Linked DNA regions of Homo sapiens. The protein of the gene in region 3 purifies or fractionates together with the protein of the main gene of each other region. This does not show direct contact. Each region holds a gene or a part of one and is shown on either strand. Other genes may lie near its edges.

Region 1 (12,103 bases), on a different chromosome or scaffold from region 3:
TTGTGATGCAACGTGTGGTAAGCACTATTTGAAAGACGTGTGATGTACCAATTCAAAAAGAGGTAAGGGGAGGTAGTCAGAAAGAAGTTCTCTGAGCTTTGAATGGAGATCTGCTAATACAGGGAGTGGAAAGGGAAAGGTGAGATATGAAAACACCTGACAGGTGAAACAGGGAATAACTAGATCAAAATGATTGGTATTTAACACATCAGTTCCAAATTTTGTTTTGTTTTGTTTTGTTTTGTTTTGTTTTTTGAGAAGGAGTCTCACGCCGTTGCCCAGGCTGGAGTGCAGTGGCATGATCCCAGCTCAATGCAACCTCCACCTCCCAGGTTCAAGCGATTCTCCTGCCTCAGCCTCCCGAGTAGCTGGGATTACAGGCATGCGCCACCACACCCAGCTAATTTTGTATATTTAGTAGAGATGGGGTTTCCCCATGTTAGCCAGGCTGATCTCAAACTCCTGACCTCAGGTGATCTGCCCACCTCAGTCTCCCAAAGTGCTGGGATTACAGGCGTGAACCACCACACCCGGCCCCAAATGTCCAATTTTAAAAAGGGGCCAAATACCAATTCTGTAATCCTTATATAAACCAATCTGATATCTATACCAAAGGAAGTACTCAGCAATGTGGTTTGGGAGCATGGAAGCAAAGAATACAAAAAACAAACAAAAAGCTCCTAGAAACCAAAATAAGTTCACAAAAAGATAATGCTGCCTTCTAAATCAGCTTCACAAAGCATTTGATGGTTCAAACTATTTCCCCTAAAACATGGTTCTGACCTTCAAACAGCTTACATTCTAGAGGTAGAAAGATGTGGTAAACGCTAATTATAGTACAATGTAACAAATCTAAAAGTACAAATAAGTTCAAGGGCTTAGGGCAGCCTCTGCCTATAAAGAGCAGAGAGGAGTGGAGTAAGGAAAGCCCTCTCTGAGACAATGACGTAAGTGGAGTCTTGAAAGATGAGTGTGTGTTTGATACTGTAGACAAAGGGTATAGAGAAGGCATTATACACCAAAGCCTATGTGAAAGTACAGGTGCCATAAAAGAGCAAGGCCTATTTACAGAACTGCAAATAGATCAGTTTTATTGAGGCAAAAGCAGCTAAGAAGGGGTGATAAGAGATAAGGAGAGACAGACAGGCACACTGATCACCGGGCCAAAGAATTTGAATTTTAGAGAGATACAGAAAGAAGAATGACAGAATTAGGTTTGTCTTTTTAAATACAAACCACTAGTATGAATCACTCTAGAATGATCAGGCAACCAAAGGATGGTTTGGAAGGAATAATGATTAGGAGACTATGTTAGGAACACCCGAGAAGAATAAGGACCTTAATTATGCAAAATATCCTAATCTTATCTCATTATCTTTCCCAGACCTGCTCCTCCTTTTCCTGTATTCCTTACTTCAGTAAATAGTAATGTATAAACTTCCTAGGGCTGTTACAAAAAATTAGCACAAGGCTGGGCACGGTGGCTCACGCCTGTAATCCCAGCACTTTGGGAGGCCAAGGCGGGAGGATCACTTGAAGTCAGGAGTTCGAGACGAACCTGGCCAACATGGTGAAACCTTGTCTCTACTAAAAATATAAAAATTAGCCGGGCATGGTGGCTGGCGCCTGCAATCCCAGCTGCTCAGGAGGCTGAGGCAGGAGAATTGCTTGAACCCAGGAGGCAGAGGTTGCAGTGAGCCGAGATTGTGCCACTGCACTCCAGCATGGGCAACAGAGTGAGACTCTGTCAAAAAAAAAAAATTACCACAAACGTGGTGGCTTAAAACAACAACATAAGTTTATTCTTTCACATTTCAGGATGCCCCAAGTTTGAAATAAGGTATGACAGGGCTGGCTCTTTCTGGAGATCCTGTGCCTCTCTCCCAGCTTTTGGTGCTGTTGGCAATCACTGGCATCCCTTGGCTTGTAGATACATCACTCCAATCTCTGCTTCTATCATCACATAGCCTTCTTCTCTGTGTCTGTGTGTGGCCTTTTCTGTCTCCTATCAGCACACTTTCATTGGATTTAGGGCCCCCTCTAATCCACTATAATCTTACCTCCATCTTTACATAATTACACCTGCAAAGACCCTCTTTCTAAATAAGGTCACATTCTGAGGTTTTGGGGGTGGATATGAATTTTGGAGGGATACGATTCAACCCACTACAGATACTGATCAATCATTTCCCAAACAGAAATGCAGTGTTATCCTTAACCCTTTCTCTTATCTCCTGCATCTACATAATTATCAAATCCTGTCAATTCTCCTTCCTTAGTCTTCAATTTATCTCCTTTTCATCAGCCCCATTACCACTTTCACTTCAATAACACACTTGTCTGTATAACAAACTCCTTTGCTATAACATTGAATAAACCTAGTTATTACTCTCATTACTGTGCCTGTACCTAAACAGATATGCATTGCTAGAGAAAATCACACAACAGTACAGACCGGTTGCACCATAATTTATGATAACTAACCCCAAGCCATTCCTCAACAATGCCTGGCAGTCCTGTTTCTCTGGCCAATTGGCTCTCCCACTCTTCCATTACTATCTCAAACCTCTTCTACTAGCCTCATGCTCTTACTCTCACCTACTTTTAGCAACTGACGTGGGCTCCTATTTTACAGAAAAAAAAAAGCCATCAGACAGAAACTTCCACAACCTCCTACTGTCTGCTCCCATTCTCTCCCTCTTCTAAGTAGCTGTTATTACAAAATCTTACTAATATTAACTACCCCACTCTTTTTCTATATTTGGCTTTTCTCTCAAGTAGATGCTTCTCACAGACTTATGTTTTATTTGTTTTTATTTAAAAACAAAATGAAAACAAAACCTCCCTTGTACCCTACAATCTCACTTCTTGCTATCTATTCAGCCACACTCACTCTTTCTGTCTGCTTCTCTCTCCACCTCCTCCATCCCCCATCAGACATAATGTGTTTGTGCAGAGACTGATTTCTCTAGCTCCGTAGCCTCAGGCCTCTTACTTAATCCCTGTAAAGTTGGAGTAACTATACTAATAAACCTGTTTCCAGGACTGTTGTGAGAATTGGATGAATCAGTCTATGTAAAAGACTCAGAAGAGAGGTTGGCCCATGGTAACTGATCAATAAAGTTGGCAATATTGTTATTGCTAATAATATAACACATTCATCTATCTATTCAGGCAACCAGCTGCACAAGATTGTCACTTGGATTTATCCTGAACTCCCTCATCCCTCTGTTCCAATCCATCTCTAGGTTTTTTTTATTTTTACCTCTCCAGTTTCTCTTGTTCTGAATACCTTCTCCTACCTCTATTATCTTACTCCACACTATCATAATCTCACATAAACAGAAACCTTCTAAACAATTTTCTGCATTCATTCATGTCATTCTCTGCAATTTTCTCCATACCATAGTCAGAGTGAACTATTCTAACTTCATATCTGAGGCTACGAACTGGTTTAAAAGACTTCCCACGATTATGATAAAGCCCCAAATATTTTTGCATGGCCATAAAGTCATGTAGAAATAGTCCCTCTCTGTCTGTTCAAACTTATCTTGTGCCTTGCTTCTTTTGCCCTCTTCTCTTGTTACACATACCAACTATCTCTCGAATCTTCAAATGCACTATGCGCTTGCCCACCACAGGTGCTTTTCACTTCCCATTCCCTCTACGGCAATGTTGAATGGCATTCCTATTTCTCTTAGCTTAATTCATTCCTATTTACACATAATTCCTTTATGTCTTAGCTCAATAACTTCCTCAGGGAAGCCTTCTCTGACATCCCAAAATAGGGTCTCATTTACTCTTATGTACCTTTCATAGTATTCATCAAAGTTGCAATTTCTCATTTACATGATTATTCTCCCAACAAATTCCTCCAATATAATCCAAACTCCATAAAAGCCATGACTACATCCCTTTTTTGCTCTCCATTGTATCCTAAGTGCCCAATACAGCATCTGGCACATAATTCGTGTTCATAAGTGCGTACTGGATCAATATTAAACTTAAGCTTCAATGTTGCAAAACAGCCTATTTAAAAACAGGACAGATTTAAAGCAGCAAAGGGACAAGCATATCACCAGTTCATTATCAATGTGGCTCTAGATCAAAGTTAAAAGTTTCTCTACTGTTGGCTATGAATAATAAATCACTTCAAAGAGATACTAACAGAGCAATTGCTGAGGGAAAGGAGGATGTGAAAGAAGGTGTATTGTTGTGCTGTTACTTTAAAAAAGGAGTAACAGGCAGAACACTCTTTCAAGGCAGAGGTGAATTTTTTAAAGTATTGGTTCACAATCTTTATTCTATTCCAACACACCTACTACTGCTAGTATTACTATTCCTACTGTAAACCTAAAAGGAAAAGGCTGAGGCACAAAATATACTTTAGTTTACCTGAGCCAAAATGAGGACAGCTACTCAACACATATTTCCCAGATGCCTGGGGAGTGCTCTGGCACCTGAGTTACAAGCAGATTTTAAAGGGAAAAAGGAACAAGGCAGATACAAAGTTGCTTGATAAGAATTCTCATTGGTTTACAATCACTGATTAGTGACTGGCTATTCATTGTTGCACTATAAGGTATGACTTATGGTGTCCAGCATATGGTATTTTATGGCTACTTGGCGTCAGTTAGTCTAAATCCTACATAGAAGGTGGCTTCCAGAGATAACTGCTTAGGTCAAAAGGGAGTGCCATAACTGCGGTTTCATTCCAATGCCTCTCTAGGCCTCACAATGGAAAGGAACTCAGTTGTGTTTTGTTTTGTTTGTTTGGGTTTTGTTTTGTTTTTTCAATAGGTTTCTGGGGAACAGGTGGGGTTTGGTTATGTGAATAAGTTATTTAGTGGTGATTTCTGAGATTCTGGTGCACCCATCACCTGAGCAGTGTACACTGTATCCAATGTGTCATCTTTTATCCCTCATCCCCTTCCCACCCTTTACTCCAGATCCCCAAAGTCCATTGTATCATTCATATGCCTTTGCATCCTCCTAGCTTAGCTCCCATGTATGAGTGAGAACATACATTTTGTTTTCCACTCCTGAGTTACTTCATTTAGATAATGGTCTCCAATCAATTCCACCCAGGTTGCTGCAAGTGCCACTATTTCATTCCTTTTTATGGCTGAGTAATATTCCAGGTGTCTGTATATATACACACCACATTTTTTTAATCCACTTATTGATTGATGGGTATTTGGGCTGGTTCCATATTTTTGCAATTATGAGTTGTGCTAGTATAAACATGTTTGCAAGTATCTTTTTCATATAATGACTTCTTTTCCTCTGGGTAAATACCCAGGAGTGGGGTTGCTGGATCAAATGGTAGATCTACTTTTAGTTCTTTGAGGAATCTCCACACTGTTTTTCATAGTGGTTGGTGGTTTACATTCCCACCAACAGTGTAAAAGTGTTCCCTTTTCACCACATCCGTGCCAACATCTATTTTTTTTTATTTTTTTGATTATAGCCATTCTTGCAGGAGTAAGGTAGTATTGCATTGTGGTTTTGATTTGCATTCCTCTGATCATTAGTGTTGTTGAGCATTTTTTCATGTTTGTTGGCCATTTGTGTATCTTCTTTAGAGAATTATCTATTCATGTCCCTAGCCCTCTTTTTGATGGGATTGTTTGTTTTTTTCTTGATTTGTTTTGAGTTCCTTGTAGAGTCTGGATATTAGTCCTTTGTCGGATGTACAGTTGTGAAGATTTTCTCCCACTCTGTGGGTTGTCTGTTTACTCTGATTATTTCTTTTGCTGTGCACAAAGTTTTTAGTTTAATTAAGTCCCATCTATTTATCTTTGTTTTTGTTGTGTTTGCTTTTGGGTTCTTAGTCATGAAGTCTTTGCCTAAGCCAATATCTAAAAGGGTTTTTCCAATGTTATCTTCTAGAATTTTTATGGTTTCAGGTCTTAGATTTAAGTCTTTGATCCATCTTGAGTTGATTTTTATATACGGTAAGAGAGGAGGATCCAGTTTCATTTTTCTACATGTGGCTTGCCAATTGTCCCAGCACCATTTGTTGAATAGGGTGTCCTTTCCTCACTTTATGTTTTTGTTTGCTTTGTCAAAGATCAGTTGACTGTAAGTATTTGGCTTTATTTCTGGGTTCTCTATTCTGTTGCATTTGTCTATATGTCTGTTTTTATACCAGTATCATGCTGTTTTGGTGACTTTGGCCTTATAGTATAAAGTCAGGTAACCTAATGCCTCCAGGTTTGTTCTTTTTGCTTAGTCTTGCTTTGGCTATGTGGGCTTTTTTTGGTTCCATATGAATTTTAGGATTGTTTTTTCTAGTTCTGTGAAGAATGATGGTGGTATTTTGATGGGAATTGCATTGCATTTGTAGATTGCTTTTGGTGGTATGGTCATTTTCACAATATTGATTCTACCCATTCATGAGCATGGGATGTGTTTCCATTTGTTTGTATCACCTATGATTTCTTTCAGCAGTGTTTTATAGTTTTCTTTGTATAGGTCTTTCATCTCCTTGGTTAAGTATATTCCAAAATATTTTAATTTTTTTGCAAGTCTTATAAAAGTGGCTGATTCTTGATTTGATTCTCAGTTTGGTCACTGTTGGTATATAGGAGGGCTACTCACTTGTGTACATTAATTTTGTATCCTGAAATTTTGCTGAATTCATTTACCAGTTCTAGGAGCTTTATGGATGAATCCTTAGGGCTTTGTAGGTATACTATCATGTCATCAGCAAACAGCAACAGTCTGACTTCCTCTTTAACCATTTGGATGTCCTTTATTTCTTTCTCTTGTCTGATTGCTCTGGCTAGGACTTCTAGTACTACATTGAATAGAAGTGGTGAAGGGGGGCACATTCTTCAGATAAAAAGTTTCTCTTTTTTCTTCCACAGTGCCACTACTATTCCAATCAATGCCTATGATTCTAGCATAGCCATGATCAAGTGGCTCATGACAGCAAAAACTCACAAGCATGTGGAAAGTGTGAGAGATGTGAGCAATTTGAAATGGCACCACCTCAAAATACACTGATATTCTCTGCTATTCCATTCTCCTCAGATATGACTCTTCCCAAATATTGCTATGGCAAAAAGCAGTCACATGGATATCATTTGTATTTAATTTTAAGATGTAATCTATGTTCTCAAAAAACTAAAAATAGAACATATACACTAGGGATATATGCCCCCTAAAAAGGAAATCAGTATCTTGAACAATATGTGCACTCCCATGTTTATTGCAACACTATTCACAATAGCCAAGATACGGAAGCAATCTATATTTCCACAACAGATGAAAAGATTAAAAAAAAAAAAGTGGTATATATACACAAAGGAATACTACTTAGCCATAAAAAAGAATGAAATCCTGCATTGAAGACCACATGGATGAGCTTGGAGGACATTAAGTAAAAATAAGCAAGGCACAGAAAGATACATAATGCATGTTCTCACTCAAATGTAGAAGCTAAAAAAATTGATTTACCAGGCATGGTGGCCCATACCTGTAATACCAGCATTTCGAGAGGTTGAGGCAGGAGGATCTCTTGAGCCCATGAGTTCAAGACCAGCCTAAGCAACATAGTAAAACCCCATCTCTACTAAAAAAAAAAAAAAATAAAATAGAAAAATTAGCTGAGTATAGTAGCTCATGCCTGTAGTCCAAGCTACTTGGGAGGCTGAAGCAGAGGGATCAACTGAGCTGGGAGTTGGAGGCCACAGTGAGCTATGATTGCACCACTGCACTCCAGCCTGGGTAACAGAGTGAGGCCCTGTCTCAAAAAAAGAAAAAAAAAAGTTGACCTCATAGAAGTAGAGAATACAACAGTGGTTACTGTTAAGTTGGGAAGGGTGAGGCGGGTAGGAAGATGTTGGTTAACACAGCGGTCACCAATGTTTTTGGCATCAGGGACTGGTTTTGTGGAAGACAATTTTTCCACAGGACAGCGTGGGGATGGTTTCAACAAAAGACATTAGACTCTCACAAGAAGCTGGCAACCCAGATACCTCGCATGTGCAGTTCACAACAGGAACAGGATTTGTGCTACTATGAGAATCTATATGAGAATCTAGTGCCACCACTGATTTGACAGGAGCCAGAGGTCAGGCTGTAATGCTCTCTTGCCCACTGCTCACCTCCTGCTGTTCAGCCAGTTCCTAAGAAGCCACGGACCAGTACTGGTCCACAGCCCGGGGTAACAAAATTATGGCTAAATAAGAGGAAAAAGTTCTAGTATTCTATAGCACCATAAGATGATTACAGTTAATAGTAGCTTAATGTATATTTTCAAACAGCTAGAAGAGCAGGTTTTGAATTGTTTCTAACATGAATAATGTTTGAGGTGACAGATATGCTAATTACCCTAATTTCATCATTATTATGTGTATCCAAATACCACACTGTGCCCCCTAAAAAGATGCGACTATTATGTCAATTAAAAATAAAAAAGAATAGCCCTAATAGCCTATTCAAGTAAAAAAGTAACCTATGATTTTTTTGCAGCAAAATTTAATATTTTAATAATAAATATAGTGTTTAATGTTAACTACATTATAAATTACCCAAATTGGAGGTATCTGTTTCTTCATTATATAAAAATATTTTATTACAGTAATATGATTAAAGGTATTAACCTCTGAAACCACTGAATGTCACGTTTGTCATATTAAACCATAAGTGGTTTCAAATATGTCTTAATGTCCATATAATTAAAACAATAGAACAAATTCAATCCTTTTCCTAAAAAGTAAAAAAGGGCAAGAAAATATGGAAATTGTTTCAAGCTTTCAAACAATATATGGAGCAACCACTGAAATTCTGTAGATGGAACAGCAGCAAGTCTACTTTGAAAGGCACTGCTGACAATGAACTTCTTTCCACAGCAATACACAATTGATTCCATAAAAACGGCAGAAGCTGCTAAACGTGTACAGATTAACATCAAAGACAAACAAGTTGACTGTAACTGAAAAAACACAAACAAATGAACAAACAAACCAAAATCATTAGGATTTTTCCCCTCCCCATTTTCCTATGATCTTTAAATCAACAGTTTCAAGCATAAAAAATATGCTCACATTGTGATATGCTAGCATTTCCTATTTTGAGAAACAATGCAACCTCCTAAACCAGGACATAAAGTCAGAATGTGTGATTTTAATTTCTGAAAAAAGAACATGCATAATTTATTACAATTCTGAATACTCATCTAAAATATTTAAAGACAAAAAAAATGGAGCACAGCCTCCTACTGAGAAAATTATCCTTCCTCCCAATTTCAATTTTTATATCTGACATCAAATCCCTGTTTAAAGTTTCCTTAGGTCATTTTAAAAATAAATAAAATATTGTTTCATTTTTAAAAAGTTGTTAATGCCCAGTTGATACTGCAGTTGTAAATGATATGAAATTTCTCGTGTGATGTTTTAGTCCACTTTCTGTTTCTTATAACAGAATACCAGAAACTAGGTAATTTATAAAGAAAAGGAATGTATTTCTTACAGTTATGGAGACAGAGAAGTCCAAGGTCGAGGGGCCAGATCTCGAGAAGTCGAGAGCCTTCTTGCTGGCAGGGGATCTGTGCAGAGTATGGAGGCAGCATAGGGTGTCACATGGCAAGGAGGCTGAGCATGCTAACATGCTTACTCAGGTCTTTCTTCCTCTTCTTATAAACCACCAGTTCTACACTCCTATGATAACTCATTCATCCATTTATCCAATAACAAATCAATCTATAAGTGGATTAATCCATTCATAAGAACAGAGTACTCATGATCCAGTCTCCTCTTAAAGGCCCCACATTGGAGATTCAATACTGTCACATTGAGGATTAAGTTTCCCATACACGAAATTTGGGGGACACATTCGAATTATACCATGTGGTAAAGGCTACTCTTGATCTTTGTTGTTTAAAGCTAGAGAACTAATGGCCAGGCACAGTAGCTCATGTCTGTAATCAAAGCACTTTGGGAGGCCAAGGCAGGAGGATCACCTGAGGCCAGGAATTCAAGACCAAACTGGGCAACAAAGCACTCCATCTCTTTTTTGAAAAAAATATAATAAGATAAAATAAGATGAAATAAAGTTAAAGTACTATTTCTAGAAAACATTAAATGCAATTTCACTATCTGAGAAAAATAGCTTTCTTGTGGAAATTACTACCAATAAAGAAATCAAGAGATGTTTTCATTTACCTACAGTAAGAAGTGATTACCTTCATATTAGCACTTTCTAATCTTTTCAAAAAGGATAGAAGAAATTAACAGTTCTCGCAGTGGAGAAGAGCCACAATTCTTGGATATGTAAATCTATGTTAATCAAAGATTAATTATGCCACATATTTCATGGCTAATAGGAGAGAAAGAATGCTGACCACTAGGCAAGGAGAGGATGTTTAACTGACATTCATATTGATATAGATATAATGGGCACTGTCAATGACAACGAGTAATGATGATTTCTTAGGAAAGCATGTTCAGAGTTTTGCACATCACTGATTATCCCATTTTTATCTATTACACTTTTTGAAAAGAAAGACCCATTCTCTTAAATTGCCTAGTTAGAAAGTACTCTTTATGCAATAATGTTAATCTATCTTGATTTCTAAATATTTTAATAATGTCCTTTTTAAATTTTCTGCACAATATGATATTTTTGTTTTTTTGAACCACAGCCACTCCACCCTCACCCACACCCAGGATCAGAGATTAAAGCAAATGATTCTTTACACTCTCTCAAAAATAAATCCAGACTTTGGAAAATTACACAGTAATGTACAAGCATATAAAAACTCAAGGTCAGAAGTAATTTCAATAATTGCAGGGAGCTCTCTGGAGGTATCTGCCTGTAATTTAACAACCAACTATGGATGTAAACCGAGACAGTGATACTATCGTTATGCACCACGAAATTTTCCTAAGAGCTTTGATCAGATTCCCCTAAATAGTTTATGCATGTCTCTGTATGCAATCATAGGCGCTGACCTGGAATAATTAAAATGAAAATAATCAGTGCTGTATCTGTCTTAACATATACAAATTCGGTTTATCAATGTGAAAGCAGATCTGCAAAACTCAGTTGTCAAAAGGTGGCCTACGGTATTTTCATGACAGAGAATCTTTGTTAGGTTTGTTAATGTAACATGTGCAATGGAGGCTGGTGTATGTAATTAGTTTCCTCCTCAGAGAGATACTAGGAAGGTGGACGACAGTACCCCGGGAACTCACACGTCGGTCTAGGGCCCTTTTTGTCCCCCACCCTCACCTCACTCCTCAGACATGCACTCTCCCATCACATTTGAAGCCCCGGTGGGCAGTTTTCTAGGGTCGTTTCACTGGAGCGTTAAATGGCATCTGACGCCACCGGGCAGCCTGGGGTTGGATGCCATAGCCGCCAGCACCCACGGCTCACCTCCAGCTTGTGGTTGATTTGAGACACAGACTGGGCTTTGTGGCAAAGCTGTGCAAAGCAGGAGCTCAGGCTGGTCATCTTCTGTCGCCCCTCATAAGTGATGTCCGCTTGGTCTGGATCGATCTCTCCCAGGAGCAGATCCACATCCACAAAAGCTTTGTCGAACTCCTTCTCCAGCACCTCCAGCCACCGGAACATGGATACCCCGCCAGGGGCCCCCACGGAGCAGGAGGCGCCCCCTGGGCCCCCTCCGGCTGCTGCTGGGCATGGACCGCCCGCCGACATGGCGCCGTCAAGGGCCTCTCCCGACTGCTGAAGACCCTCGCCGCCCCCCGCGCACGAAGGGAACTGCTGGGACTGAGGGGACCCCCGCGCGCGCGGGCACACTCCGTCACCTCCCTTCACCTCGCGCCGTTAACGCCAGCAGCACAGTCACAGAACCGCAGGAGTAACGAGGCTGAAGCTGAGGCGGCAACGGCGGCGACACACGGAAGACTCAGTCAGTCCCACCTCCCAGCCTGCCCCCGCTGCGCATGCGTAGCGAAGAGCTGGGCGGACGCAGCCACGAGGGACAAAATAGGCGGGGACAGGATGCGATCTTGGCCTATGAAAGGCCTCAGCTTGGGAGCGGCCTGTCAGCGGCCATATTAACAACTGGCAAACTACGGCTTGAATCCCTGAGAAACGGAGGCGCGTGGTTTCTGCACCCTGGTTG
Region 2 (12,290 bases), on a different chromosome or scaffold from region 3:
TTGAATTTATAAAAAAAACTCTCTGGGTCCAGTTTTTATAACATTTTCTAAGTTCCTCCATGGTTGATGATCTAGTCAAATTATCCTACTTTTTCTTGAGTTGTTTTGACAAATTATTTTTATCCAGAAGGATAATCATTTCATCATAATTACAGAATTTTTAGCAAAACCACAGTTTAAAATTATTATTTCTAATTTAATTTGTACTTTCTTTTGATTCTTTGATTAGGTATTCTATCTTGCTAAATTACTGACAACCCTGTGGGATAGGTTCTATTACTGTCCTCATTTTCCTTATGAGGAAACTGAAGCAAAGAACGTTTACTAGGGGTGTCCAAGGGAGGGAATATAGTCATGGGTTCTTAGTTTGTTTCTGGTTGGGCCAGGAAAGCCCCTTCCTCATCCCTCTTTTCCACTTATCCCTAGAGACAGAAACTAAAAAGCATAGCTTCAGGCTGCCGAAAGCCTAAAACAAAACAAAACAGAACAACAACAATGACGACAACAACAAAATAAGGCGGGTTGGACAAGCTTGATTTAAGTAATTTGCCCAGGTCCCATTGCTAGTAAATGGTGCAGTCTACCACCACACTCTATGCACTTTACTTCATTATTAAAATCACCTGGTATACCTTTGCTACCAATAACACAGTAAAATCCAAACTCCTACCATGGCCTGCAAGGTCCTTCCATAATCAGGACCCCGCCCACTGCGCAGAGGTCACTTCTTACCACTTGCCCCTTTACTCTAAGCCAGGGGTCCCCAACCCCTGGGCAACCGCCTGGTACTGGTCCTTGGCCTGTTAGGAGCACAGCAGGAGCTAGCAAGGATTATCGCCTGAGCTCCGCCTCCTGTCAGATGAGCTGCAGTATTAGATTCGCACAGGAGCACAAACCCTATTGTGAACTGCACATGCGAGGGATCTAGGTTGCACTCTCCTTATGAAACAGTTTCATTAGGAAACTATACCCCGCTAGCACTCCCCCGTCCCTGCATCTGTGGAAAAATTGTCTTCCACAAAACCAAAACCGGTTCCTGGTGCCAAAAAGACTGGGGACAGCAGTTCTAAGCCTAAAATATTTACTGTGTAGCCTGTTTCAGGCAAGTTTGCAGACAATGGTTACAAGCTCTTACATCCAGAGAACAGAGAACTCCCTATTTGGATTAATAACAATGTTGTCAAAATTTGGCTGTAGTTAGACACAGGAGCACTGTGCAGTGAGTCCACCACTGGACTCCCAACATGTTTACATCTCTGGTACATATACAAATCAACACCAATCTTTCACTCTTTGAGCTTCTCGCTCCTGTTATGCCCTCCGTCCATAATACCCTGTTGTGTCTCCGCCTAGGAGAATCTATTCAACTTCAAGGCTTACTTCAAGTTTCACCTCCAAAAAGCAAGGGCACCATGCCAATGATCATCCCATGTGGATGTGACACGGCTTTCCCTGAACTACAATAACACTCACACTTTAATACTTCTACGGCAACTGTCACACATATCTGGTTACATGAGAGGCAGCATCAAACAGCATTAAGACCTTAGGCTTGTGGTCAGAATACCTGGGTTTGGGTCCCACCTCCCCCACATACTAGCTGTGTAAGTAAGTTGAACAACTTACTTAAATCCTTTTTTTTTTTTGTCTGTAAAATGGGAATGATAATAGCACATACCTCACGGAATCGTGAGGATTAAATTAATACATGTCAAGTGCTTAGAGTAATGCATGGCAAAGATAGCAAGGGCTTTTGAGTATTGACCGCATCTATCCAACAGAACTATTTCTCAAGGAGCACATAGACAACAAGCCTGGGTCATAACGTCATTTTCATTCACATTGCACCTGAAGTGAGTTTTTATGTCTTTTAGGTACCAGGGTATGATGCAAGGAGCTGGGCTTTAGTTATAAACACTTGAATCCAAGTCCAAATTGCCAAATTTGCCGTTTCACTTTAGGCAAATATTTCACCTCTCTGTGCCTCAAATTTTCTAACCTGTAAAGTTGGAATAATATCTACTTCACAGGGCTATTTAGGCCAAAAATTACACAGTTAAACTCTCAGCATCATGCCTGGTTCATAGTAGACACACCATAAATTTTAATTCCTTTTCACTTCTTCCCATAAGGCAAACAATTACAGCTTTACAACATTGCCTTAGAGCCCAACCATGACTAGAATGTGCAAAATTAATTTCATTTTTAAATCTCAAATCCCACAAAATGAGTTTACTTAAAATGAAACTCATTTATATTTACCACAGAAATCTAAATTTCTTTTTTTTTTTTTTTTTTTTTTGAGACAGAGTCTTACTCTGTCACCCAGGCTGGAGTGCAGTGGCATGATCTCGGCTTACTGCAACCTCTGCCTCCCGGGTTAAAGCAATTCTCCTCCCTCAGCCTCCCGAGTAGTTAGCGTAACAGGCTTGCACCACCATGCCCAGTTAATTTTTGTACTTTTAGTAAAGACTGGGTTTCACCATGTTGGCCAGGCTGGTCCCGAACTTCTGACCTCAAGTGATCTGCCCACCTCGGCCTCCCAAAGTGCTGGGATTACAGGTGTGAGCCACCGCGCCTGGCCAATTCTTGATAACACCATAAATTTAAGTTCCTTTTCACTTTTTCCCACAAGATAAATTACAGCTTTACAACATTTTCTCAGAGCCCAACCATGACTAGATTCTACAAAATTAATTTCACTTTTAAACCTCAAATTCCACAAAAATGAGTTTAAAGGAAACTCATTTATATTTACCCCGGAAATCTAAACTCTTGATAATACCACACATTTTAGTTTCTTCTCACTTCTTCCCACAAGATAAATAATTTCAGCTTTACAACATTTTCTCAGAGCCCAACCATGACTACACTGTGCAAAATGAATTAATTTCACTTTTAAATCTCAAATCCCGTAAAAATGAGTTTACTTAAAATGAAACTCACTTGCATTTACCACAGAAATTTAAACTCTTAATTACACCATATACCTTAATTCCTTTTCACTTCTTTCCATAAGATAAATCACAACTTTACAACATTTTCTGAGCCCAACCATGACTAGATTGTGCGAAATTAATTAATTTCACTTTTAAATCTCAAATCCCATAAAAATGAGTTTACTTAAAATGAAACTCACTTGTATTTACCACAGAAATTTAAACTATTCATTACACCATACACTTTAGTTCCTTTTCACTTCGTCCCACAAGATTAATTACAGCTTTACAACATTTTCTCAGAGCCCAAGGCTAGATTGTGCAAAATTAATTAATTTCACTTTCAAATCTCAAATCTCGTAAAATGAGTTTACTTAAAATGAAACTCACTTATATTTACCACAGAAATCTAAACTCTTGATAACATAAGAACAAGAGGCCGTCTGATTTTCTAAAAGACTTTTTTTAGACATTAAAGACATTTTCAAAAGTCGTAAATATTCGCTCCGGAGGCGCAAGGCTTTCACCTGCCATTAATTCATCAGATAAGGCACAGCTCACAATGAGGCGCCACTCCCACCGGGACCACTTTGAGGAACACACAGCAAAACGCTCTGTTTGTTTTAAGAACAATCACTTTCTAAACCTTCCTGCGGGACTCTCAAAGGCAGCCCTTCCTTTGCCGCCAGAACCGCATCCCATCGCCCAGCACTTGCCGCAGGCCGGACAAGTGAGGCCCAAAAGGGCACCCAGCCCACGCCCCGCTTTAGAAAACACCGCGCGGCAAAGCTGCTTGGAAAATCGCTATCTTTTAGTCAACCTGAAGCCAGTTTGCCGCACTCGGGGAGAGCCGGGGAGAGGAGGGAGGGACGCGATCCGCCACCAACCAAATCAGGGCCTTTCCTGTTAACGACCACGCGGCAAGGGGGCCGGGCCCTCGCACGCCTCGACGGCCTCCCCCACTCCAAAGGGACTCCGATTTCGCAGGATCTCCCGCCTCCCGCCTCTGCTCCCAACACCCTACGTTTTTCTCTTCCTCCTCATTTACGTATTTACAATAAAACAGCGAAGCTGCACAGTCTGTCTCTAAATCAAACGCGGTTACCATCAAAGCCTCAGACTCTATGTCTCAACCGCAAAAGGTCTGACAGGAAATCAACTCGGGAGTTTGTCAATTCTTTAAACTCAAAGCTCTGTTAACGAAATCTGGATCCTTCCTCGCTCCCCACCTGCCTCCCCTGACAGGAGAATGACTGTAAAAGGATCCTGTCGTCCCCGAAAGTCAGCACCAAGCACTTCACAAATTGTCAAATCTCAAAAGCTTACACGCGCGGGCACTCCGGAAAGGCTGTGGGGACCACCCAAAGCACCCCCCTCCACACCGCGGCTGAAATTGGAGGCTGCGAAGTCAAGACTCGCTCTTCCCCGCAAAGCAAACCCTCTCTCCTCAGGAGAGCCCCGGCCCCTAAGCCAAATCGTGTATTCCCGTGACGGAAAGTTCAAGGTGAGGAAAAAGTACGACTGGACAGACCTATTTTAGTGACAGAGCCTGTCACGCCGGCCTCCGGAGGTCGCGGTAAAACTGCTCGCAGTAGTCCTGCCTCTCCGATGGGCGACAGCTGTGACCGTTAGGCCACTCGACGCTTCGGAAAGGTCCTGGCACCGGAAACCGGGCCTGGTCACGCGCACGCGAGACCAGTGATGCCCTGACCCCTGAGTGGATCAGAGAGCTCCCGCGACGCCGAATTCCCACACTCGCGGTTGGGGGGGGGGGGGGGGGGGGGGGGGGCGGGACTACCCGCTGACCAATCGGAGTCTGGCCACTGACAGGCGTCACCGTTGATCGGCCAATCCGCGGGTGCTCTCCCAGTCCTTGGGTGAGGGCGGGAATTTGCTAAGGAGATGGCTGTGGGGCGGGGCCGAGGGCGGGAATTTGCTGAGGAGATAGCTGTGGGGCGGGGCCGAGGGCGGGAATTTGCTGAGGAGATGGCTGTGGGGCGGGGCCTCTTACCTCAGGTTTTCCTTCGCAAGACCCGCAGGATTGAAAATGGACGTTAGGCCTTTCAGAGACTCGCGCGCTGAGTGGTTTCTGCGGCTGCGCAGGAGGCTGGCGCGCATGCGCAACCCTTCTAGTGGCGTTGTAGTTAGGGACGTGGTGTCCCCCCTTCGTTGTTGGGGTGTCCGAAGCTTTTTTTTTTTTTTAATGTGATCCCGCCCCTCCCCCGCGCTCTGTGACGCACCAGAGACGTCGTCGTAAACTGGGTTTCCTGGACGCACGCCAGTGATTGACTTGGAATGAGGAGAGGGGCGGGGCCTTAGCAGTTGCCCTGAGCCAGGTCTGGTAGGAAGGGCGAGGGGGGCCAGGGTGGGGGGCGGGCAAGATATTTCCAGTCTCCAGCACCCACAAGTTGGACTGGGGAACTAACGCAGACCTTGAAGGCAGATTTACTGGATTGGACCCCCAGCTCCAACACAGTCCTCCTATGGCCTTAGGCAAGCCAAGTAACCGCTTTGTGCTTCGGTTTCCCCATCTGTAAAATGGGTATAATATGGGGACTACATGAGTTAATGTATGCAAAGCACTTAGAACAGTACCTGGCATAGAATTTTGCTATTGTAATAAAGGCTATGTGACATCATCTAGTGGCATATAGTCTTACATACTTATATCGAGGCTGCTCATCTTGGGAAGGAGACACAGTCTGAGTAATTATCAGAAGCAAAGCAGGCAGATATTTCAAAGTAAAGCTATACATCTTTTCTTGGCCCAGAGAGGAGCTACAAAGAAAGTATACTGGACGTTGGAAATGTATCATTTTTCCTCTCAAATACGAAGCTAGATTAAAGCCCATTATAGATATAGTATATGTTTTTTTTTTGTTTTTGTTTTTGTTTGAGACGGAGTTTTGCTCTTGTTGCCCAGGCTGGAGTGTAGCGGTGTGATCTCGGCTCACTGCAACCTCTGCCTCCTGGGTTCAAGCGATTCTCCTGCCTCAGCCTCCAGAGTAGCTGGGATTACAGGCGTCTGCCACCATGCCCAGCTAATTTTTGTATTTTTAGTAGAGACGGGTTTCACCATGTTGGACAGGCTGGTCTATGTTCTTTTTGCTCCTACTTTTGCCATAACAGACCCTGCCCTTATGTCCTGTTGCCTGTAAAACACTGTTGCGAAGCCCCAAGAAATCAATTACGTAACAGTGAAGAGAGAAACCGGTTGTTTAATTGCAGTCACGTTTATTTGCAGTTTCTATACACACTTTCTAGGTAATCAAACTTTTCTGATACATTTTTTTTGAGAGGGGTTCACAATGAAACTGTCACCATTTTTACTAAAAATAAATACAAGACTTAAAGTGTTGCACAGCTCTAAAATATACAAAGGCTTGGATTGAATGTAAACGTTGAAAACATCTTACAAAAGAAACCATCTTTGCAGCAATTTAAAAAGTTCATATTTACAAATATTACAAAAATACAAAATGGATGCAAGTCCATAAACCATTGTCGTTTCGGCCAGCATGAACTGGTTCTAGTACCAAAATAGTTACACTGTAACCTTCTTCATAGTTTTAAATCTTTATTACCATCTAGTTCTCTACGTGCCACCACTGCAGCAAATGCACTCACTCACTGACCTTTGGCAAGAGCAAACAGCATGTTCTGTTTGCTACAACTAGTCCATGTCCTCTACTTAGCCAAAAACAAATCAAAACAACAACAAAACCAAAGTAGAATTTTTAAAAAATGAAAAAATTTCCCCTACACAACATAGATACGTTGTATAAACATAAAAGAACAAAAAATCGCATCAGTGCAAACAACAGAAGAAAAGTTCGGATTGATGTTCTTCACAATACCTAACGTGTGTACCCTGCTTCAAGACGGCAGTGATGTTAAAGACAGCCCTAAATCTTGGTCTTGTTTGCTATGTAATCAAGCCATGTAGAATATTCCAGATTATTAGGGAACTTCCTGCTTTTTCTTCTCAGTTTGTAACTCAATACTCTTTTCCACAGTGAATTTTAAATCCATCTTTATTTGGGTTTTTTAAATCTATGAAATATAAAATAGAGAAACTCTGCTATAGATTTTTAGAGTAAACAAAATAAGTAAAACTATATTATAAGGGTTAGTTCTGTGATCATTACATATAGAAGGTATCTTATTGCCTCACAATTCAAGTCAATATGTATTTTAAAAAATATATGGTACCATTACTTAATGTCAATAATAAAAAGGTGACATTTTTATTAAAGCCAATTCATGTGTTTTCTATTCAAGATTTAGAATCACTTTTAAAGCCCACATACCTTTCTTCACACTTAAAAAACCCCTAACTACACAAAAGCCATACTGCAAACGAACTGCTTTTATGAAATTACGAAAGATCGCCTACTGTGACTGGAAATGACGGTTTCTTATCGCATTTGCCTAAAAACTTTATTTTTAAAACTTTGCAAGGTGTACTTTTCAAATCATGAGACAGATTTATTCATGTTCCCATGTGGTGTCAAACCATGCTGGTTTTCTTAATTAATGGGTTCCAATGAGAAATGGTGGTCCATTTTATTCAAACCCCAAAATATTTTTCTTTTAAGAAAAAGTGTGACATTTTGTAAATGTTCAAACCCTTTACCAGGTAGCTTATCTATCCCCAGTGTGTGTGCGTACACACACACTCACACTCACACACACCCATACACACTCTCTCTGACTCTCCCTCCTCTTATACCCCTCCACCCCCAGCACCCATTTTACATACAAGGATGACAAGAAATTTAGTAACACAGTTTGGTAGTGAAAACAAATAGTAGAAGAAGCCAGACATTTTTTTTCTTTCCAAACAAACAAAACAACAGCAATCAGATTATCTATTCTTAATCTGTAGCAGTTTAGAAATCATTTCTATTGAAAGACAGTATCTTCTTAGACCAGGCTTCCTCCTTCATTTTGCATGAATTAATCCAAAATGCAAACCCTCTTCCACACCTCCTACTTTCCCAACTACCACTTGCATAAGCTTAAAGCCAGCAGCTTGTCAATTTCTTGGTAACATTGGTATGTTCTATCACTCTAATCACATTCTAGTCTTTTATAAGTCAGATCCCTTCTTAATTCTCTCTCTGTTCTACCTCTCCCATTCAAAACCTATTCTAAGTACATAGCTGCTTATATTTCTGACATAAGATTCCAAACATTAGTATAAGTTCATGTTAAAATCAGAGGTGTAAAAACCATTTGCAGATTTTAACGTGTAACTACATTTTTTTTTCAGTTTTAAGACAAGAAAATTCAAGTAATTTCAAGTAATTCAGCTTGTTTCCCTGCCTTTATTTTATCAGAGCACATGCCCTGACATTTCCTCTCCCACCCTCCACCCTCCCCTTTTGCCATCAAGCAGACACTATAGTAAAACCAGACAAAAACTCAGTTGTATGTAGTATTGTGAACCAGAGCTGTTCCCCATTCCCAGTTTAACAATGAGTATAAATAATGCATATACACATACCTATTTTCCAACTACATTGTTCACAGTGTCATTTCTGTTAATTTTTAGGTAGCATGAATCTCATCAGCACAGAGAGAAAGCTTCACTGAAAACTCATTACAGGTACTTACTGATTAATCAATAGCTCTGTGGCATGCTTAGGTTTTATTTTTGTTAGTTTAAGAACCTGGAGCTAATTTCTAAACTGTTTAAGGAGTTTAATGATTACAGTCATTAGTTATGACCGTTTATGTCCCCAGTAGCCTAATATAAAACATAACCTAAAATTAACTACTATTTTCCCTACTCATTCTCTTTAAAGCAATCCATTGAAAAAATTAAAATCTAAAGGACACTGTCAAATGCTGTTGTTCAGGGCTTTGTGTTGAGAATGATGACTTCTCTCACTGATTAAAAAAAAAATCAAAAGCATGCTTTTCATTCTGTCCAAATTACCACACAACAAATCACAGCCATGGGTTGCTATTAGTTTGTTTGGTGCTGCAATTTGTCATAAAAATGATTAGATCTGAATTCATTATTTTAATTTATTCATATTTCAGTATATGACCTCAAGATTTCCTTTAGTTCACCAGTTTAAAATTCATATTTGAGGTTTACCACTCAGAAATCATATTGGTGGACATTTAAATATGGCATTTGATATGAAAATGGTATTCACAGAATACAGTTATTACATTTTATTTTTGTGTATTCTATAAACAGTTGGTGTGCAGTAGATAATTGACCACATGTCCACTCATCATTGATAAATCTATTTACACATTTTTATCAAAAATATGGTATTTACATATGTGTAGTTCTTTCTTCTAAATTTTGCTTTAGTTTGTTTTAATGTAAAAAAATACCAAACATCCAGAGTAATTTCATCTTCTTAAAGAATAATGACAGTGAGGGCTTTAGTTTCTGAATAGGCAGCTCTGGGAAAACGTTTTCTAGGTGTCATGAAAATTAGACAATTTTGTATCCTCTATTTTCACAAGGAAGGAGATTGCGTAAATCAAACTATGCTAAAGAAAAACATGAAAGACTGCAGCTACTTAAAATATGGAAACTAATCAAGAATGTCTAAACCACTTTCTGTTTACCCAGCACATACTGTATTTAGAAATTCATTCATTGCTTAGCAGTGATGCTACCCCATCAAGTTGAGACTTTTCCCAAGTCCTCTGTTCTGTTCCTCCATCCTCATGTGAGTAAGGGTTTTGGCCTTTGCCAGGCAGCCTGGTACAGGCAGTCTATGTTGAACTCTGGGAGGAACGGTCGTCATGTGGGCTCCCGTCAGAATTTTCCGTCTCTCCCTCGGAGATTGCCTGCATGGGCGTATTGTACAGCCGGCAGCGGACACTGTAGCGGCTGCTGCTGGCTGCAGGAGGGGCCCGAGAACGTCCAACCCTTGCTGATGCTGAGGTGGCAAAGCTCTTCGAGGAAAAGCCTTCTGCATTAACTCGTGGGGAGCATGGAGAGAGTGGGGACAATGCCTCAGCCCCTTGTGACCCCTGATGGGCATCATCGGTGCTCTGAGGGGACTCTGCTGTGAGCTCCCCAGGAGGTTTGGGCAGTATGGGGCTCTTCAGGATCTCAGTGGCAGACATGCGGTAACTAGAATCTGAGCGACTGCCTTTCTTGAGCAGTAACAGCTTAAACTCTTCATTGGATGTGTTGGACTTTTTGGCATTTCGGTATATGAGACCAGGAGACCTCTGGCTGTTGGGGGTTGTCACATTACTGCTGGGTGAAGTGATGGAACTGGCGCTGCTGCTGCTACTGCTGAGGGGAGCTCTCGATTTGCTTCGAACAGACATGTCCCCGGAATCTTTTCTTCCAAGTACTTTCCTCTTGGATCTTTGAGAAAAGGAGAAAATGGGGCAAACATCTCACTCAGTTCACGTTTTTATGAAACTGAAGTATTCAGTCGCATTCACACATCTGTCTAAAGTGCATTTTGAGCCTGTCCTATATGATGGGATACTAAGCATTAGGGCTATAGAGATGAAAAGTAAGATATGTTCCTTGTCCTTGTAGCACCCACAGTCTGAGAGAAATTCTCTGATAACCAGGACACAAATTAGGTTCTAGAGATGATCATTTCAGATAATGGCTAATGTGGAGGCTAGAGGTTCTAGAGGATACTTTGTAAAAGTTTAAGAAACTATACTGCTAACAGCCAGGCGCAGTGGCTCACACCTGTAATCCCAGCACTTTGGTAGGCCGAGATAGGCAGATCACTTGAGGTCAGGAGTTCGAGACCATCCTGGCCAACATGGTGAAACCCCGTCTCTACTAAAAATACAAAAATTAGCCGGGCATGATGGAGCATGCCTGTAGTCCCAGCTACTCAGGAAGCTGAGGCAGGAGAATCACTTGAACCCGGGAGGCGGAGGTTGCAGTGAGCTGAGATCACGCCATTGCACTCCAGCAGCCTGGGCGACAGAGCAAGACTCTGCCTCAAAAAAAAAAAAAAAAAAAAAAAAAAAAGGAAGAAACTATACTGCTAACTAAACTATACTTCTGGTTCCAGGGGGTGAAAGACTATAACTTTTTCTTATTAACTCTGTCTCTGCAATACAGATGAAATGATCTGATGTCTGGGATTGGCTTCCAAATAATACCAGAGAAAGCAAGTGGATGGAGGTGTGGGTGGGACAGGATTGGCCCTAGTTTGACAGTTGATAATCCTGGATGATGGATATGTCAGCAGACATTATACTATTCTACCTTTTAAAATCCCTCCATATAAAAACATAATTAAATGACGTTTTAAGTCAATTCATCTTGGGCTGCAAGTATCATTTCCTATAGCTTCCTAAGAGCATCAAGAGCATATTAAGCAGTAAGCCAGCTCTCTGTGGGGAATTGAAATCCCAGACCATCTCTGGAGCTCTTAAAGCTTTGTATACTGTAAGCTCGCAAGAAAACAAAATAATTCTTTTTGCTGTGATGTAAATAAACAAGTAAATAGATAAATAAGTAAACCCTGCACAAATGCAAGTCTAAGATTACCAAACTCAATACATCTATTGAACCTTGACTCCCATCATCATATTATTGATTTTCTTTGGTAAATCAGCAGGCATAAATTTGGTGGATCTTCAGTATGACTCAGTTCATTGATAGGCAGCATGCACTTTCATCAACTTAAAGATTCATATGGTAGAGAAAATGTGAACTTCACAAGTGTAGATATGCTTGATTTTGGTTCACAGAAACCTCTGTGGTTGATATCTTGTATATGGCAGTGTCTGGCACTCCACTAAGTTAGGGCTTTCAAACTAACAATGGCTTTTAGCACCTACCATATTCTAAACACAAAAAATGTTATCATCAAAATCAAATACGTGAGCTATAGGCATTCCCATGTGCAATAAGGGAGTAGGTCCAGAGGTTTTAACTTACTCAAGACTGCATAGGAAGTGGCAGAGTTGGGATTCAAATCCAGGTCTTTCTGACCCCACTATTTACGTCCTGTCCACTATTCCATACACTAGCATTTGGTCCTTTGGGAGTAACTTTTTAACTTACATAGCAGTTTAGTAATTTTTCCTGGGATTGAAGATAAACTGTGGGGGTGAGGGAAATATAATCAGAGCTTAGACTAGGCACAGGGGTGAAGGAAAAGAAACTAATGGTTCTTCACCCTCTGAGTAGAGAAGTATGCCTGCTAAGGTATACATAGAAGGTGTTTCTGATTGGCTCCTTTTAAAACAATTGTTGAACAGCAGTACTCCTTCTTTATGAGAGAACCACATCAACAGAAAACAGAAATTCCTATAAAAAGTAGAATTCCAGGAGAAAAAGATTGTAAGCTGCTTACGATGAATTTGTTTCAAAAATGATAACTT
Region 3 (7,940 bases):
TGTATAGAACTTGAGTAATTTATTCGTTAATATGAAATGTTGGTATTATGTGACTCAGAAGATCTTGGGTTTTAACATTTCTAGCATGAGTTAAACTATAATGTACTGATGAAATTTAATTGAAATATCCTTGACTAGAAACACTGATGTTTTAAATGTTAGTGTTTTTCTTAGTTTTAGAAATTCTGGTATTAAAAAAAAAAAGAGTGTAATCATACCACATAAATTTTCTTTAGATGATGTGCAGAAGAAACTGATTGAGAATGCAAGAGTAACTGTAGGGAGAAACATTTTGATCACTGATATGCCTTAGAACTACCCAAATGAATTACATTGAGGGTAGTCAAATAAAATAGATCATCTCACCACAGTCACTGCATAGAAAGTGGTTAAGTTTAACATAAGACATGTTGGATGTTATAAAAACAAATACTGTACTGAATTTAGTCTCAGGAAAAAAATAAATTACTTTGTTGAAAACATTTGGTTTCATTTTTCTAAATTCATATGTTTCTAACCTTAAGAGTCACTCATATCAGAAAGTCAAATGAATTTCATTTAAGAACTTATACTAAGTTTTAGATTTCATTATTAACGCACAAGTAATAATGTTGGTTTATAAATCAATGCCATTCAGATATCCATGGATCTAACCAGATCTCCTTCAAAGATGAAATTTTTGCTCTATCTTTATGCTAATCCGTGTAAACCAGAATAAAAATTTTAGGGAAGCTTTTACATGATACTGGTCAGAAATGAAATACCAGTCCGTTAATAAGAACCAAACACTTAAAAAAATTCTTTGAAATATTGTTAATCATATCACCCAATAGATAATTTTTAAATTAGTCGGTTGTCCCTTTCAGTGGCATATCCTCTAACAGATGGTTCTTATGTACTTGTATTTCTGAATTACAACCTATAAAACATTGTACTTCTGAATTACAACCTATGAAAACATTATAAAACTTTTACAAAATTTGCAGTGAAACTGATAAAACTGATGCTCCCGCCATTTCTAATCTGAAAGAACTTGGTGTACTCATTCTTTTTAATGGAAAAAGCAAAATTACCTTGAGTTGTTATCAGTGTCCTTCTCACTTGAATAATCTGCTACTATAAAGTTTTAGAGGGTTGAGAATTTATGACTGAAATCCAAAATCTGGCCTAAAACTCAATCTTACCATAGAAGATATGGTTGTTTAAAATTTGCCCTTTGCAGCTGGGTGCCGGTGGATCACGCCTGTAATCCCAGCACTTTGGGAGGCTGAGGCGGGTGGATCACGAGGTCAGGAGATCGAGACCATCCTGGCTAACACGGTGAAACCCCATCTCTACTAAAAATACAAAAAATTAGCTGGGTGTGGTGGCACTCGCCTGTAGTCTCAGCTACTTGGGAGGGGGAGGCAGGAGAATCACTTGAACCCGCAAGGTGGAGGTTGCAGTGAGCCAACATGGCGCCACTGCACTCCAGCCTGGGTGACAGAGTGATCCGTTTCAAAAAACAAACAAAAAAAATATGCCCTTTGCAATACTGAACATTTTAGACGTAAAGGATTTATTAGCACCTGAGTCAAGTGGATAACTAAACTCAAAGCCTAATGAGCTGATCCTCTATTTTCTGTTTAAGCATTAGTTTGAGAGTATACTTAACTGTGACATACATAGCAGAGTCCCAGAAGAAAGAACTGACTACTAACAAATTGAAACAAGTACCCTTCAGGGGACCGTGGATATAACCTGACTCCTTCAGTGACAAAAATCAAGGTGAGAACAACCCAAAATCCCAAAATAAGGATTACTAAATTAAAATAGGCTCTATCATACCCTATCGCTACCACCACATAAAGGACTAAGACTGTAATAGTAAGGACCTCTAAGCCAATTTCCTGATGTTCCAAAAAACATGCTAATCTTTCTGATCTAATTCCTACTTCACAAAAAGGAAAATTGAGAAAGAGGATTTATGGATTCCAGGAAGAGCTTCCACTAGTGGAATATAAGTTATAGGGCTAATCAAAACAAAGCATAAAATAAAAATCAACACATTCCTAAGTAACTACTCACACATATTTCATTTCCATGGGTACGTAGAAGCAATCAAAATAAGTCAGAAGACAGCAATTTAAATAAGATTTATTTTTTTAAAGGTGGTTATTTTTATTTTTTGCAATGCCACAGTTATAGGAGTGTATGAAGAGGTAACATGTCTCCTTTTCCTTAACCATGTTTTTTTTTTTTTAACCTTCTGCACAAAGGTAAAAGTTTTTGTTAATCTCATAGTTAATGGTATAAAACAGAGATTGGCAAACCTTTCCTCCAACAGGCCAGGTAGTAAATATTTTAGATTTCACAGACCACATATTTTTTTCTTTTATAACTCTTTAAAAATGTAAAAATCATTTTTAGTTTGCACCATACAAAAACAGACTGGGCCAAATTCGGCCCGTGGGCAGTAGTTTGCCAACCCCTGGTATAAAATATCTACTTTGTCTTGTCAGAGAAATTGCTGTCCTTAGGCTTCTAGACAATCTGCTGCCTGAAGTCAAGTGGAGAAGGGCCTTATTTACAATTTAATGTGGTTTGTGACAGAAGTAGAAATGGAGAGCTTCTGCTCACTTTTGACTCTCCCAGTTTTTCCATTCACTCATTCATTCAATAAATTTGTTGAGCACCTACTATGTACACTCTTAAATATCTTGGTGTTAGCAGAAATTTCCAGTGTTTCTTCCTTAAAAGGGTGATTTCTCCAGTTTCTCCAAACCAGGAATTATTTCTTAATACTCATGTTTTATGGAAAAATCAGGATTAAAATCTCTACCAGCACACAAGAGGATACATGATTATACAAAATGAATCTAGCCAACAATGATATCCTTGCACCCAATAGTGACACAGCCTAGATGAGGAAAATATGTAACTATCTCTATTTTAAAAGATACCTCTTTTCCTCCCACAGGCTGAAACTTTCAAAAAAAAAAAAAAAATCAGATCTAGAACACCCCGCAAGTAATTTCTTCCCATTTTCCTAGTTTTGCTGCCATGTTAACATAAAATCTGGATCCAGGTAGGCCTCTTCATTAGCTTTCTATTTCAGCCATAAAACAATACTACACTTACAGCTGAATACTGACTCCAAAGCAATGTGCATGCCCACATTTTATCTCAGGGAGGGATTGATTATGTTTCTGCTCCTTCAGAATGAAAACTGTTAGCTTTCTGAATCCTATTTATCCAAGGTGAGGGAAGACTTTTTAAAGTGGCCAAAAGGAGCACAGGACTTGAGTATTAAAATATAAAGGTGGCCCCCATTCCAGATCTTTGGTACAGTCATCAACTATAATAATCTGATTGCCCACCCCACCAAAACAGCACATTTTGTAATTAGAAGTGATTTTGATTTTCCTTTTGACCATGTAAACAATAGGGGAAATGCCTTGGGAAACTACTTTGCAATGCACTCTCATTTCTCTTAAATACACAACCAGTTCTCCCTTTGATAAGTTCATGGGGGGAAAGAATAGAGTAGGCCAAGGTTATCGCTTTCGCTCCCCTCTCTGTGTCCTTTTTTTTTCCTTTTCCTTGCGCTCCTGCTTGGCTAGTTTGTCTCTCTCCCTCTGCAGCTTGTCCTGTTCCTTCTTCCTTTGGGATTCATCCCGAAGTGAGTCTCGCTCCAGTTTTCGGGCATTAAGGACATCTTCCACATTGGTGTTTCGGAACAGAACTACAGGTGAGTTAAGGGATTAGGGTACAGGTCACACAGATCACACCTACTGCTGCCTTTCCTCATTCTACTTATCCTCTCTCCACCTGCTGAGTCCTGAATCGTCTTTATCTATTCCTGGTTTTTTAAAAAAAACCCTTATGTTTATCCTTGGTCTAACAGAGAAATCCTAAAGCTATATTACAAAAGTTTTAAAATGTCCTTTGGAATAAAACTCTTATTCAGATTTACCTAAATCTGAATTTTAAAATATTTTACCAAAGAAACAAAAAAATAAGAAAACAAAATATTTCATCAAAATGAAATTTCATTCTAGAATAAGTACTTATATCATTCAATGGCAGAATATTAGAGAATCTAGGCTAGTTTTGGTGAACAGAGTAGTAATGTAACTGACTAAATGTTTATGTACTTGGCTCTGTTAAAATGCCTTAAAAGAGTTAAATAAGATGTTTAACCTTATTAAACTTTATCAATTTGCTTTTGTTCCTAGACTACTAAAGCTGAAGTGAAAACCACATTCTAATAACCATACACACTGAATCTATAAGAGATAGAAAATGAGTTTAGGCTGGGCGCAGTGGCTCATGCCTGTAATCCCAGCACTTGGGAGACTGAGGCAGGTAGATCATGAGGTCAGGAGATCGAGACCATCCTGGCTAACAGGTGAAACCCCGTCTCTACTAAAAATACAAAAAATTAGCCGGGCATGGTGGCACACACACCTGTAGTCCCAGCTACTCGGGAGGCTAAGGCAGGAGAATCACTTTAACCCAGGAGGCGGAGGCTGCAGTGAGCCGAGATCGCACCACTGCACTCCAGCCTGGGCAACAGAGCGAGACTCTGTCCCAAAAAAAAGAAAAAAAAAAGTGTTTGGTGTTTGTATTCTCTGACAAATTATAAGGTTTTTGAGGAAAAAGAGAAAATTTCAACATTATTTTATTATTTTTTGAGACACAGTCTCACTCTCATATCCCAGGCCAGAGTGCAGTGGCAAGATCTCGGCTCACTGCAGCCTTGACTTCCTGGGCTCAGGTGATTCTCCCACCTCAGCCTCCTGAGTATCTGGGACTATGACTATAGGCACATGCCACTACACCTGGCTAGTGTTTTGTATTTTTTTTAGTAGAGACAGGGTTTTGCCATGTTGCCCAGGCTGGTCTCAAACTCCTGGGCTCAAACGATCCACCTGTCTCGGCTTCCCAAAGTGCCAGGACTACAGGTGTAAGCCATCACGCCTGACCTCAATATTATTTTAATTTTCTCCCTAATGCTGGGCAACTCAGAGTATAGATTTTTATTTTTCCCTTAGAAATCCTTCCTCCAAACTAATCCCTTTACAGTACTTGTTAACTTGTTTTCTCTGGGGAAAGTTCTTGCTAAACTGACTATCTAGGGCTGTCCTAGGAATAGGGCTCCCAATGTTAGCATGACATGAGTTCCTGAAGGTAAAGGGGAGCCGCCAGCAATGACAGCAAAATAAAAACTGATCTCAAGAGGACTCTATGGAGAAACACATAGGGAGGGACCCAGAAGGATACGTTTGTCAGAACCAATGTTCATTGTGGTAGCACCTGAATCATCCTTCTCATCTGCTTCAGTAAGTGATGTTAAGGAAAGTCAGATGGAAAACAACATCCCAACCTAACATTAGAAAACATTCAATAGACTGGTAAGTAGGAAAAGCACACTGAATGGAGGGAGCACATTATCAGGGATATGGCGATAAACCCAGGAGATTCATCTTTGGAAACCTCAACTTAGGAAAGATTGATATATCTTCTATAAGATCCTTTTCTTGGAGGCTGAAAAGAAACTTAAGTTGGTCTGGGTGGATTGCCACATTACCTGGAAGCCAGATGACCTTTAAACAGTGGTTCTCAAAGTGTGGTTCACAAAACCCCCAGGAATATATTAGAAATACACATTCTTGGGACCTATGCCAAACCTACTAAATTGTGGGTGAAGCCCAGCAATCTGTGTTTTAACAAGTCCTCCAGGAGAACCACTGCTTTAAAAGTCCTTTTCTAGCCCAAGATGAGAAATTATGTCACCGGAACCATAGCTCTGCCAACCCTGGCAAGAAAACTCGTAAAAAAAAAATTAGAAGAGAGGCCAGGCGCGGTGGCTCACGCTTGTAATCCCAGCACTTTGGGAGGGTGAGGCAGGCAGATCATGAGGTCAGGAGATCGAGACCAGCCTGGCTAACATGGTGAAACACTGTCTCTACTAAAAATACGAAAAATTAGCTGGGCGTGGTGGCACGTGCCTATAGTCCCAGCTACTCGGGAGGCTGAGGCAGGAGAATGGCTTGAACCCGGGAGGCAGAGGTTGCAGTGAGCCGAGATTGTACCACTGCACTCCAGCCTAAGCGACGAAGCGAGACTCTGTCCAGAATTATTCTGGTATTGCTTTGGAGGTTCAGCCTTACTTTTAACTACCTGGTCACATAAGAAAGAAAAGATGCAAGCTGCTCTAAATTTAGAGAATCTTTCACCCAAAAATACCCAGGTTCTAGTCCTGGTTTTGCCACTAATCTTCTGAATGCCTCTGATCACCCATTCATCTGTTGGTGTCTCAGTTTCCTTATTGACTGGGAAAGAACATAAAGATGGATTATACTTTATACTACACTGTATAGAAAAGTATTATACAAATATAAAGAATTACAGCTATATTGTATTTTCTGAAAGCATAATATAAATGGACTATTAAGACATTATTTGTTTTACACCAAAGTTTTCAGGAATATAATGATTATGTGTTGAAAAATATAAGTCCAGTATCAACTAATCCAATATCACTCCGCATATCCACAAAGGGCCATAGATTACTGCCATTTTAGAGGGGAAAATTAAGCTATAGAGGGGGATTAGCAACTTGCCAAAGGTCACTGTAAACCCACAAATATGTCTGGCTTGAGCTTTAGGGAATGGTGCCGAGACTCCAGAAAGGATATTCCTCTTCATCTGTCACATCAGCATACTGGGCCAGGAGGGCAGCTTTTCTCTGCTTCTCCTCTTCTGACACCATCCTTGGCTTTACTACGATTTGTGCCTGCTTCTCAATTAGGGTGGCAATGGCCTGTACTTCATCTGGGAGGTGGTGGAAGGAAGAACAAGGTTGTATGAGAGAGAACAAGCTCACTGAACCACTAGTCCACATAGGCAGCACTTGTACTGAAGACATTGGCATCTGCTGCCTCCTTAGAGCCTGGCAGTTCAAAGGACATGGCTCGGGGGCCATTGAGAAAGGAAAGGAAAGGCCATGCAGGCCAAGCTTTGTATCCATCTTCAATCAGAGCAGCCCTGATTTTACTTGTTTTATATACTGAAGTTCTGCTGCCTTAAAAAAAAAAAAAAAAAAAAAAGGTTGAAAAGCACTGCATTAGAACCACAGAAAACTAAGCCTCTGAACACTCAACTTCCCCATGGCATCCCAAAAACCTAAGCAGGAATCTAAAATCAACTTAAGCTGGTCCTGTTTATGTTTCTGATTATGCCAGGTGGAATTCTTAGATTAAGAATATTTTGGCCGGGCGCGGTGGCTCACGCCTGTAATCCCAACACTTTGGGAGGCCAAGGCAGGTGGATCATGAGGTCAGGAGATCGAGACCATCCCGGCTAACACAGTGAAACCCCGTCTCTACTAAAAATACAAAAATTAGCCAGGCGTGGTGACGGGCGCCTGTAGTCCCAGCTACTCGGGAGGCTGAGGCAGGAGAATGGCGTGAACCCGGGGAGGCGGAGCTTGCAGTGAGCCGAGATCACGCCACTGCACTCCAGCCTGGGCGACAGAGCAAAACTCCGTCTCAAAAAAAAAAATATTTTGCCATGCTATAAAATAAAATCAACTAGTAAGTTCTCCAGTCTCAAGAAAAGGAAACAATGGTGTAAAATAGTAGTTCTCACACTTGGTTGCACATTAGAATCACCTACAGGAGCTTTTAAAAAATACAAATGCCTGGGCCCCAACCCAGGTACATTAAGTGATTCTAATATACAGCCAAAACTGAGAACCAACAGTGTACAGAGTTCAGAATCTTTCCAAATTTGGCTTTTATGATTTGAGTTTTCTGTACCTAATTTACCATCCTAGTGGTGGGTATATTCGCCCATTTCTCTTCCATTTTAAAGGGTAAAGTGTTTAGCTGAATAAAGCCAAATACCAACCATAATTTGTGTTATGAAATGACAACATGAGGCAGGGTGCTGTA

Evidence for each region.
Region 1: the proteins of CCDC43 (region 3) and GOPC purify together in Homo sapiens (affinity purification with mass spectrometry; 4 studies listed by BioGRID and IntAct, with this or other methods). This does not show direct contact.
Region 2: the proteins of CCDC43 (region 3) and SCML1 purify together in Homo sapiens (affinity purification with mass spectrometry; 3 studies listed by BioGRID and IntAct, with this or other methods). This does not show direct contact.

What each region holds. Positions count from the first base shown.
Region 1 is NC_000006.12:117,590,616-117,602,718, forward strand, and holds the start of GOPC (Golgi-associated PDZ and coiled-coil motif-containing protein), read right to left. Parts: upstream 11,897-12,103; 5' UTR 11,674-11,896; coding exon 11,389-11,673; intron 1-11,388.
Region 2 is NC_000023.11:17,729,861-17,742,150, reverse strand, and holds the start of SCML1 (sex comb on midleg-like protein 1), read right to left. Parts: upstream 4,659-12,290; 5' UTR 4,471-4,658; exon of another isoform or gene 1-4,470. Other genes in the region: actin remodeling regulator NHS, read right to left, coding at 9,687-10,293. UniProt on the Homo sapiens protein: Putative Polycomb group (PcG) protein. PcG proteins act by forming multiprotein complexes, which are required to maintain the transcriptionally repressive state of homeotic genes throughout development.
Region 3 is NC_000017.11:44,675,320-44,683,259, forward strand, and holds the end of CCDC43 (coiled-coil domain-containing protein 43), read right to left. Parts: intron 6,820-7,940; coding exon 6,684-6,819; intron 5,325-6,683; coding exon 5,266-5,324; intron 3,731-5,265; exon of another isoform or gene 3,725-3,730; coding exon 3,537-3,724; 3' UTR 2,121-3,536; downstream 1-2,120.